Regions from separate parts of the Homo sapiens genome. Here region 2 is linked to region 1. Evidence: fine-mapped expression QTL. A gene starts in region 1. The other region holds a variant in brackets. All regions are shown on one strand. Distances are from middle to middle. Region 1 holds the start of HIKESHI (heat shock protein nuclear import factor hikeshi). Region 2 overlaps HIKESHI (heat shock protein nuclear import factor hikeshi).

Region 1 (5,387 bases):
ATTTCATACCAGTGGCCTTTTGCAAGGTGTGGATGAGGAACAGATATAAACATCTTAACACTGATTTTAAGCAATCTACCTGTCTTACCCTTGCATTCTGTGGCCCCTGATATCTCCAGTTCCTGAGCTTCTCTGATATTTATCTTTCTCTGTAGTACCTGAGTTTGATCTTCCACGCCTCTGCTAAGTCATTTGCCTTTCTTTTATCTACTTTCCATTGATATCTGTTGTGACTTGGGGTTACAGATATCTCCCAGTTCAGGGAAGACAGAGTTTGTGTGTCTATTTGTTGTTCTCCTTGTTTTGTAAAGAAAAATTTTTCAGAGAAGAGAAAAAATATTTTTTTGCTCTCTTCAAGTCAGAATTCAACCTAGAATTGGAAGAAACATAATGGCCAAAATGATAAAATAAATGATCTCATCATTAGGTTAATTAATGAAGAGCTAACACCAGGATTCAGAATCCCTGATACCCTGGCCACAATTAAACTATAACTGGTTCTTACTCCATAGAATCATATAGTTTGAGATGGGGGGGAGTACCTCTGAGGTTTTCAGCCAATTTCCCCAATTTTCCGTAAGTCTCCTCAACAATGTAAGTGGATTTCAGCATTGGTTACAATATCAATGTGAATAGGAGCATTCACTCTATTCCATGACTATCTATTCTTATTTCAGAGAGCTCTGATTATTGGAAAGATTTTTTTCCCTGAAACATTTTTTCACTTCCTCACACTGTATCTAGTTCTGCCCGCAGAAGTTACAAAGAACTACTGTATGTACAAATAATATAGTTTGGTAGCTGGAATACTGGCTACTCTAGAGATATGATACTGTACTCACTGCCTCTAACTCTTTGTACAATCTATAACTAAGACAGTTGACCAGCAAAATGGAGAAAAAGCTCATATCTCACATAACAGAGATTGAGACAATTAATAAACATCATCTGTAATTTATAAAAAAAATTCTAAGCTAGCTAGTTCTCAATCCACTAAATATAAGATTGCTGGGTAGGAGAAGAAATGACTATCAGGTGGGTCATAGAAAGGTTAGTGAAGAAAAGTGAGAGGATGTGTAAGAAATAACCAAGTGAATATTACAGGGAGATAAAACAAGTTGCATAAGCACATACAAATTTAAAAGTAGGAGTTGCTCAGAGAATTCAAAAGTATGGCTAGTGCACAAGGTGGGTATGAAGAAGACATGGAAAATTAGTTAGGAAAGGCAATAATGCTAAATATTAACATTTATTGAGTAAGCTACATTCTGGCCACTATTGAGTACTTTACGTGTAAGAACCCTCAAAACAACTTTATGAGGTAGATACTACTATTACTTCATTTTAAAGATGGGGAAAAGGAGGTATGGGAGTGTTAGGTTAACTTGCCTGAGATTATGTAACTAATAAATGGCAGAGATGGGCTCTGAACCCAGGTAGTGTGGGTGCCTTAATTTATGAAGTGGTCTTCATATGAATGGCCTTTTTATTCTGAAGGTTCTAGGACTTTTTAGATAGTAAGTTGGAAACATTGGTAGATCCTTTCCTACCTCTTCACCTTTGGCACAGCTATCTCAAAGGAGTATCGGTGATAAGATAGGTGATCAGTTTAGGGATCCACAGTGGAGGCCAGAGGACTGTTCCAAACACTGATCCCCCATATATAAACTGAGAACTGGGAAGACAGACCTGCTTTACGGCTGGTGGCCAAGCTCAGATATTTCAAATTGGACAGAGACCCTTTACTATCCTATTCAAGAAGAAAAGGAATTGGAGCTGTGAAAGGGAGAATAAGTATTGGTGGCAATCGGTACTTAATGCCAGTATTTTTTTTTTTTTTTTTGGCTATTGTTTTGTATTTCCTATGAAACTTTTCTGCAGATCCACATAGAAAAAAAATAGACATTTTTACAATAAAACTCCCACTAATTAAGCACAGCCAAGCACTGTTTTAAGTGTTTTATACATATTAGCTCATTTAATCCTCACAGCAACCCTAGGCAATAGGCTCATTATTTGTCTTTTGCAAAGGAGGGGCACTGAAGCACAAAGACATCTACAACTCGTCCACAATTGTACAGCAAATGAATGGGAGAACTAAGTGAAGCTGGAAAGAACTACTATAAATTGTAGACAAGTACAAAACAATTGGTTAAAGATTAATACTTCTGAGACACTGTGTAGCAGAAAGAAACCCGGATTTGGATTAGGACTTGAATTCAGCCTCCAACATTTACTGCTGTGTAAAGATTTGAGGCTGATCACTCCTATAAAATTTGGATTATAATACTTACCTCATAGGGTTTTTGTAAAGATCTAGTGACGTGATTATTGTAAAAGTGCACCGTTAATCTCTCAGATGTCACAGAAACGTTAGAAGCATCTCTTCCCAGGATTGTACATGGAAATGAAGGATCCACAGATTTTGTGGCTATAAAACACCCGGACTACCGATCCCAGTGTGCAAAGCCTCCAGGCTTACCTTCCCGGAAACTGGCGCGGTGCCCTCTGGGACTTGTTCTGGGACTTGTAGTCTTGTACTGGCGCTGGCCCGCCTTTCTTCCTTAGTGGGGAAAACCGGGTGTAAGCCCCGGAAGTACTTGTTGCCTGAGCAGTGGGCTGCTTAGGAAGAGAAGGTCAGAGTTCGCGGGGGCAGAGGCATTCTTGCCGCTGGCCCAGTCACTATGTAGTGGAGGGGCAGACACCCTCCCGCAAATTCTGGAAGGTTCTTAGTCTCGACTAGGGCAGTAGCCCCAGGACTCCTAGTCGCCGGCTTCAGGTCACTGCCGGCTGAACGGAGCTGCCGTCGCCATGTTTGGCTGCTTGGTGGCGGGGAGGCTGGTGAGGATGGGACCGGGTGATATCAGGAAGGGGTCAGGATACCGAGGGCGAAGCCCTACGGCAGGGAGGGTGCGCAGGCGCTAGGGATGCGGGGAAGCCCACTTATTATATTTTGGGTGGGTATGTGAGGATGGAGCGTGGGAAGCTGGGTGCTCTCCTTTGCCCAGCTCTATTCAGATTCTTTCGAATAGTAGTCACAGTATAAGTTGGCATTTATTAAGTGTGCATTTTGTACCAAGTACTGGGCTAAGTGCAATGCACGCCTTTGGTCACTCAGCCTTATGTGTGGCGCTTATTTGGCACTTTGAACTTAATCCTCATAACTCGTGAGATGGTCTTTATCTTTGACATTTTGCAGTTACAGAACTAAGTTCAATCGCCAGTATAAATACCTTCTTTATTAACTTGAGGTAGAGGTGAATTTGGGATTGAATTTGGTCTATAGCAAACTGTTTTTCAAAGATTAAGGTGCTCAGGGAATGTATATCTTTTGGGTCCCTTTGGAAGAACCCGAGTAAAAATAAGCTTAATTTAATTGGAAGTTGGCTGAAACTTAACGTGTGAGCCGTATCTGAGATAACCAGAGAAGGATGCGAGTAGTGTGTTTCCTTATGGGTCAAAATAGATAACTTACCTTGCCAAATTGTTAGAGTAAATGAGAACAGCACCTGGAATTCTTTAGGAATAATCTGGAAGGTGAATCTTGTTTGTTTCCTTAGAAACCACACAGACATCAATTTTCAGGCCTGATTCCTTTCCCCTAGAAGTATTTTTCCTTCTTTTTTCTCCTGGCTTTTTAAAATGTTGCAGTCCCTTTGCTGAATTGTCTTTTTTTCCCATCAAGTTTTGATAATGTATTGTATTCTGTACATATACAGTTCTAAGAAGCCAGAAAGATAAGTTGGAGATGACTAGCCTCATAAAGTTTGTCTCTTGAATGACTGGGAGACCCCTGTGGTGATGGTGGTAATTCATAATCCTGGTGAGATAATTTTGCCCTGCTCTTAATAGGGAAAAAGGACAAACCTGGAATGATTGTGTGACTCAGACGAGTGAGTGTTATTAATGAATGACATTAAAATTGTGTTTCTTAAAGAATAAAAAGCCTATTTGGAATCCATGTATCTCTCACGTTGTCAACTAATTTGGAAGGAAATTTAGTTATGGTAATACCTGCCTCTATATATTGGGGATACTTGGTCCTTTAATTATGGAGTATTAGGACACATCAAAGTGAAGGACAAATAGACCTAGTGGCATCTCAAAACTTAACTACACGACTCTGTTATAAGAAAAATCTACTTATCTAAACTTATGAACCCAGTTTTTATTTCTTAAGATTTTTTTTCTTAAAGAGATACACCTTTTCTTAATGTCAAAAATTAGAGTGTGATGATACAGATTTGCAGACTGTTCAGTACCTATACAAAGTTGACACTTAAGAAATATTTATTTTGCCTGGTGGTTATTTCAAGACTCATAAATAATAATTTCCCATGCTTTTTAGGTTATATGCATGCCAAAGACTGGTGAAATTGAATTTAATACTAATACAGGCCATTTGGTTTGTGTTATTCCTTTGTTTTATTCTTTATACTAAAGCTGGAGGATTTTAAAGTGGGTCAGAATACTTCTGAAGAGGGAATCAGAATTTGACTTTAGGAACACTGCCTTTGTATCTTGAGACTTAATTTAGGGCAGCCAGTTGATACTACTTTATAACTAATAGATAGTTGAAATTACATAGCAGTATATTTTTCCTAAGTTTATTTGTATCGGTAGATAGGATATTATAGAGGGAAAACTTACCTAACACACATATTTTCTCTGTAAGGCATGTCATAGCCTTCTTGCACTTAGGAAGACTAGCCAGCACTTGAACTTGGTCATTTTAAACAGCACGATCACCAACAAAAATCACAAAAATGCTTTAAATAGATGAGACTGTGAAAAGGACACTTTTTCATATTACGAGGACTGAAACAAGATGGCATGTTCTACCTCAGCTGCCAGTGTGTGAGTTGCACAACTCACTTTTTTTTTTTTTTTTTTTTTTGAGACGGAGTCTTACTCTGTCAGCCAGGCTGGAGTGCAATGGTGTGATCTCTGCTCATCGCAACCTCCGCCTCCAGGTTCAAGCAATTCTCATGCCTCAGCCTCCTGAGTAGCTGAGACTACAGGCATGTGCCCCCATGCCCAGCTAATTTTTATATTTTTAGTAGATACTACGTTTCGCCATGTTGGCCAGGCTGATCTGGAACTCCTGACCTCAGGTGATCAACCCGCCTTGGCCTCCCAAAGTGCTGGGATTACAGGCATGAGCCACTGTGCCAGGCCTACAACTCACATTTTTTACTACTGTTCATATGAGTATGTCCATGAATGACTGCAGAAATGCAGCAAGCATTGATTTGGGATTACAAGTGAGTTTTAGTGAGTAGGTGAATTCAGATACAGGATTTGTGAATAAGGAGGATTGCCTAATTACTTCTGGATTGCTTACCTGTTTTAATTACCTGAGATTCTTTTATTTATTTTTGAGACAG
Region 2 (5,387 bases), 33 kb after region 1:
TAGAGTAGAAGTTGGCAAACTTTTTTGTGAAGGATCAGTTAGAAAATATTGTAGGCATTGTGGGCTACATTTGATCTCTGTGGCATATTATTCTTAAACAACCCTTTAAATATTTGAAAACCATTCTTAGCTCCCACGTCATACAAAATAGGTTGTGGGACCGATTTGGCCTGTGGGCCTTGGTTTGTCATTGCATTAACCTACAATTTTCATGTTGCATTGCCCAAAAGATTATGCCACCTTTTAAGTAATATAAAAGGAGACTGGAGACACCATCTTTATGGTCTCTTTTTAGCTTTTATTGAACAGAATGTAAATTCATACTTTTAAATATTTTGTTCATAATGGCAAAGAGAAGAAAATTGACAGAGGAAGAAGTTTCACAATTATTAGACAAATCAGAAAATGAATACTGAAAGGTAAATTCTACACTGATGACGATGGTAAAGTGGATCATATAAGCAAAATTACCTACTATGAATCTTCAAATAAGATCTCATTATCTGAGTTTTCTCAACTAAAAATTTGATGATTGAACAATGTATTTTTAAGGATCAAGAGAAAATATGAGGCCGGGTGCGGTGGCTCATGTCTGTAATCCCAGCACTTTGGGAGGCCGAGATGGGTGGATCACTTGAGGTCAAGAGTTCCAGATTGGCCTGGCCAACATGGTGAAACCCCGTCTGCACTAAAAATTTGAAAATTAGCCGGTGTGGTTGCACAGGCCTGTAATCCCAGCTACTCGGGAGGCTGAGGCATGAGAATTGCTTGAACCCAGGAGGCGGAGGTTGCAGTGAGCCAAGATCGTCCTACCGCACTCCAGCCTGGGCAACAGAGTGAGACTCTGTCTCAACAACAACAACAACAAACAAACAAAAAAAAAAAAGAAAAGAAATATGGTATTCTACTCAGTCATTTAAGAAGAAGGAATTTCTCACATAATATTTTGTCATGGACAAGTAGTAAAGGATGTGTTCTGCTATTCTTTTATCTCTTATATTTGTGTTCCAAAATAGACTGGATATGGTTTTATAAATAGACAAATGCTGAAAGCAGGGGTGTATAGAGAAGTGATTGGAAGGAAATAGGTATAGGAATGAAAAAAAAAATAATTGGCTTGATCATTCTAAATAATGGTTATAAATCTAAAAATGAAAATATTTTGCAAAATGTAGATCAGAGGATAGCCATCCTTCAACAAATTATGAGCCGTTAAAGGTTTCAAAACTTCAAGCTTTCAGGTATTATATTATGGCAATGTAGATGCCAAAAAAAGAACAAGATACAACCATAAGCTATAACTTTATTAATAGATATCTGACTTATGAAATTTATAAAATGGATGTGTTCCATAAGACGCATGTGTTCCATGTTTATCCATGATGGTTGATGGGCAGTTGTATTCACAGGACATAGCCCATTTCAGCTATATCTTAAAAACAAGGAAAATGTGGAATGACTATCTGGATTTGCTGTACTTAAATACTTAGAAAAAATCTAATAAAGTTGTTTTCCACTATTTCCTGATTCTTCTCAACATTCTTTGTAAAATATGTGTGTGTGTGTGTGTGTGTGTGTGTGTGTGTGTGTAAAGTTTCCATTAGATGCAAATAACAAATGATGGTGACTGCTTTTCCTTGTATACTGAGAATAAAGAACTAGCTCCCTGTAGGAATTTTTCCTCTGAGTTGTGTTTTGTGTTAGGCTCTTGATTTACATGGAGGAGGGATGCTTTGAGAAAGAGTCTTAAAAAAAATTAGCTGCTGCATTTACTGTTAACAGTGTTTTAAAGAACTTGATCTAATTTACATTTGTTTTTTATATTAAGACTAGGTCATATATTTTGCTTGCTCTTCTTTGTATTATGATTTATAATTTATTATTTTTGCATCTATTTGATGATATGCTTTGATAATGATATGTTTTCTGGATTTTAGCATAATTCTAGATTTAAAAGAAATCAAACGGTAGAGTAAGGAGCTCCAGAAAATCCAGTCTTCCATAAAAGCAACAACAACACTGTCAGAAGATCACAGCTCACTGTAGTCTCGATCTCCTAGGCCTAAGCGATCCTCCCACCTCCACCTCCCAAGTAGCTAGGACCACAAGCATGCACCACCTCGCCTGGCTAACTTTTGTAGAGATGGGGTCTCCCCATGTTGCCCAGGCTGGTCTCAAACTTCTGGGCTCAAGCAGTCCTCCTGCCTCAGCCTCTGAAAGTGTTGGGATTACAGGATATGAGCAACTGTGTCTGACCCAGAATCAACTTTTTTGGAACTCTGGTAACTAACCAAAAGCTTGTAGCAATCAGGGGAACATTTAATCAAGAAAATACACTGAATCTCAGTAAGAACAGTGAGCTTTGTGGCATTTGGCTACCCTTGTCCCATCTGCTTCTCAGCTCAGTGATAGCCTTGAAAATAACAGACTCCATTCCTGGTACTGATATAGGGAGCAGGATAGACCTAATTCAGAAAGAATTGTAATTAACTTGTTTTCATCTGTCTGGTGGCTTGCTAGAAGACTGTTT[A/T]AAAAAAAAGAGGTCTGCCTTTATGTCACCTAACTTGGAACTCTTCATGGAAAAGTATCTACCTTGGGGGTGTTTGTTAAAAGTATTTACAGACATATGTTTTAGCTACTGTTGCCCGAGGCAAAGGAAAACAGTTGGAGTAAACCAAAACTAACCAGAAAGGTTGGGAATGAGATGCTTTGGGGAATGAGGGCTTTGAAATTCTCTGACATATTCTTGGTAATCTAGAAGGGTACGTGCATTCCCAGAGCTTTGTGCATGCTCAGGAAAGACCCGCGAAGACCCAGAGCTCTCTCTTCTGGCTCACTTTAAGTCTCCGCACAAGCAGGAAGTGAAGACTAAGGTGGAGTTATAAACTGCCTGGCTGAATACTAAAGGCATGTCCCAACACGCAGAGCCCATCTGCAAAGACTGGCAGAATTTTTTGGTTGCAGAGGTTTAAGGAAATTTCTTTCTAATCACTAGCAGACTACTAACTAATGGAACAGAGACTTCACTGGCCACACATAACAAAGAAACAGACTTTACAAAATTAGTTCAGATAAGTCATTAAATGAGGAAACAACTACAATAAACAGCAACAACAAACCCCTAGAAGGTGGAAACATCTGATTTATAGCGTCGTCACATTGTAATATTCAAAATGTCCAGTTTTCTACAAAAAATTATGAAACATACAAAGAAACAAAGTAAGGCTCTTATACAGAGGAAACGAACAGAAACTTCCCCCAGGGAAGCACAGGCAAAGACTTTAAGTAAGCTGTCTTTATTATGCTCAAATTGCTAAAGGAAACCAGAAGAATGATACATCATCAAATAGAGAATATCAATATAGAAATTATAGAAAGGAACTAAACAGAGTTTATAGCTGAAAAGTACAGTAACTGAATGGTTCACTAAAGGGCTTAGATAGCAGAATTGAGTAGACAGAAGAAAGAATCAGTGAAGTCGAAGATAAATTAATTGGAATATCCAGTTTGAAGAGCAGACCCTTAGAGACCTGTGAGACACCCTCAAGTGCACCAACATGCACAGCAGACACAGTGTAATGAGAGTAACATATGGAAAGGCGGGAGGGCTGGAAAGAATATTTGCTCTGGTCTGAATGTTTGTGTCTTTTTATATGATGAGGTCTTTTAAATTTATATGCTGAAATCCTAACCCCCAAGGTATTGGGAGGTAGGGACTTGGATGGTGACTGGGTCATGGGAGTAGAGCCCTCATGAATGGGATTACCACTCTTAGAGTAATAAGAAGATCACTTGCCCTACTACCACGTGAGAACACAGTGAGAAGGCACTGTCTGAACCAGAAAATGGTCCTTCACCAGATACCAAATCTGCCGGTTCCTTGATCTTGGACTTCCCAACCTCCAGAACTGTGAGAAATAAATTTCCGATGTTTATAAGCTACCCAGTTTATGGTGTTTTGTTATAGCAGCCTGAACAGACTAAAACAATATTTAAATAAATAATGCTCAGAAACTTCTCAAATTTGAGGAAAAACATTAACCACATTTAAGAAGCTCAAGAAACTCCAAGTAGGATAAACTACACCAAGACACACGATAATCAAACTGTCAAAAGGTAAAGAGAGAATGTTGAAAGCATCAAGAGAAGTAACTCATCACATGCAAGGATCCTTGCTAAGATTAATAGCTGATTTCTCATCAGAGACCCCATAGTCTTCTAGACGGTAGTGGATTGGCATATTCAGAGTTCTGAAAGGAAAAAAAAAAAAGCCATCAACCAGGAATTATATACTCAGCAAAACTGTCTTTAGAGATGAAGGAGAAATACTTTCCTAGATAAACAAAAACTAAGTCATTGCTGGCAGACCTGCTCCATAAGGAATGCTAAAGGGAGTCTTCTCTATTAATTATTTATTTTTCCCACACTCTGTTACTGTCTGTGTCTAGTTGCAGTAGTTTCAATACATTTCAGAAATGTGACAGCTATTTTTCTGGTGGGAAACTTTTAGTTCTTTTATTCTTTGTTAATATGCTAAAAACGAAGTAGGCTTTTGCATTTATCTGAAAAGAGGGACAAACTTGGACATAAAACTTTTTCATGTATATAAATTAGAGGTTCTTTATAAATTTACAAAGGAAATTGTGTGACTACAAGTTTAATTTGAAATGTGTGTCATATGTTAATTTCTTGCAGGAGAAGGAAGCCAACATCCTTTTGGAGCCATGAATATTGTCCGAACTCCATCTGTTGCTCAGATTGGAATTTCAGTGGAATTATTAGACAGTATGGCTCAGCAGACTCCTGTAGGTAATGCTGCTGTATCCTCAGTTGACTCATTCACTCAGGTAATGCAACATACATTTCATTCTTTACCTCCCCCTCCACTGCTTTATTAAGGTATAATATACAAGTTAAAATCGTAACTTAGGGTATACAATGTGATGTTTTTGATACATGTTTACATTTTGTTTTGTTTTATTTTGTTTTTGAGAGATGGAGTCTTGCTCTGTTGCCCAGGCTGGAGTGCAGTGGCGCAATCTCGGCTGACTGCAATTTCCGCCTCCCGGGTTCAAGCGATTCTCCTGCCTCAGTCTCCTGAGTAGCTGGGACTACAGGCACATGTCACCACACCCGGCTAAGTTTTGTATTTTTTTTTTAGTAGAGACAGGGTATTGCCATGTTGGCCAGGCTGGTCTCGAACTCCAGACCTCAGGTGATCTTCCTGCCTCGGCCTCCCAAAGTGCTGGGATTACAGGTGTGAGCCACCACACCCAGCCTATATTTTGACATAAAATCAAGCTACTTAACATATCAGTCACCTCACACAGTCATCATTTTTTTGTAGAGAACAGTTAAGATCTGATCTCTTAGCAAATTACAAGTAT

The links. PIP is the estimated chance that this variant, and not a neighbour inherited with it, causes the effect. A credible set is the group of variants that fine-mapping cannot tell apart.
Region 2: its variant is the best candidate, but not a certain one, in a credible set for the expression of HIKESHI in whole blood (INTERVAL, PIP 0.60).

Annotation. Positions count from the first base shown.
Region 1 is chr11:86,299,638-86,305,024 of GRCh38, forward strand. HIKESHI (heat shock protein nuclear import factor hikeshi) reads left to right here and starts at 2,603. Exons shown (of 5, transcript NM_016401.4): 1 at 2,603-2,841. The coding sequence starts at 2,812.
Region 2 is chr11:86,332,684-86,338,070 of GRCh38, forward strand. It overlaps HIKESHI (heat shock protein nuclear import factor hikeshi), which reads left to right. Exons shown (of 5, transcript NM_016401.4): 3 at 4,696-4,847. It overlaps LOC105369421 (a long non-coding RNA gene), which reads right to left. Exons shown (of 5, transcript XR_007062826.1): 5 at 3,281-4,250. Among named protein-coding and RNA genes, the nearest start is that of HIKESHI, 33 kb to the left of the region's middle. The variant A/T (reference allele first, on the strand shown) is at 2,531.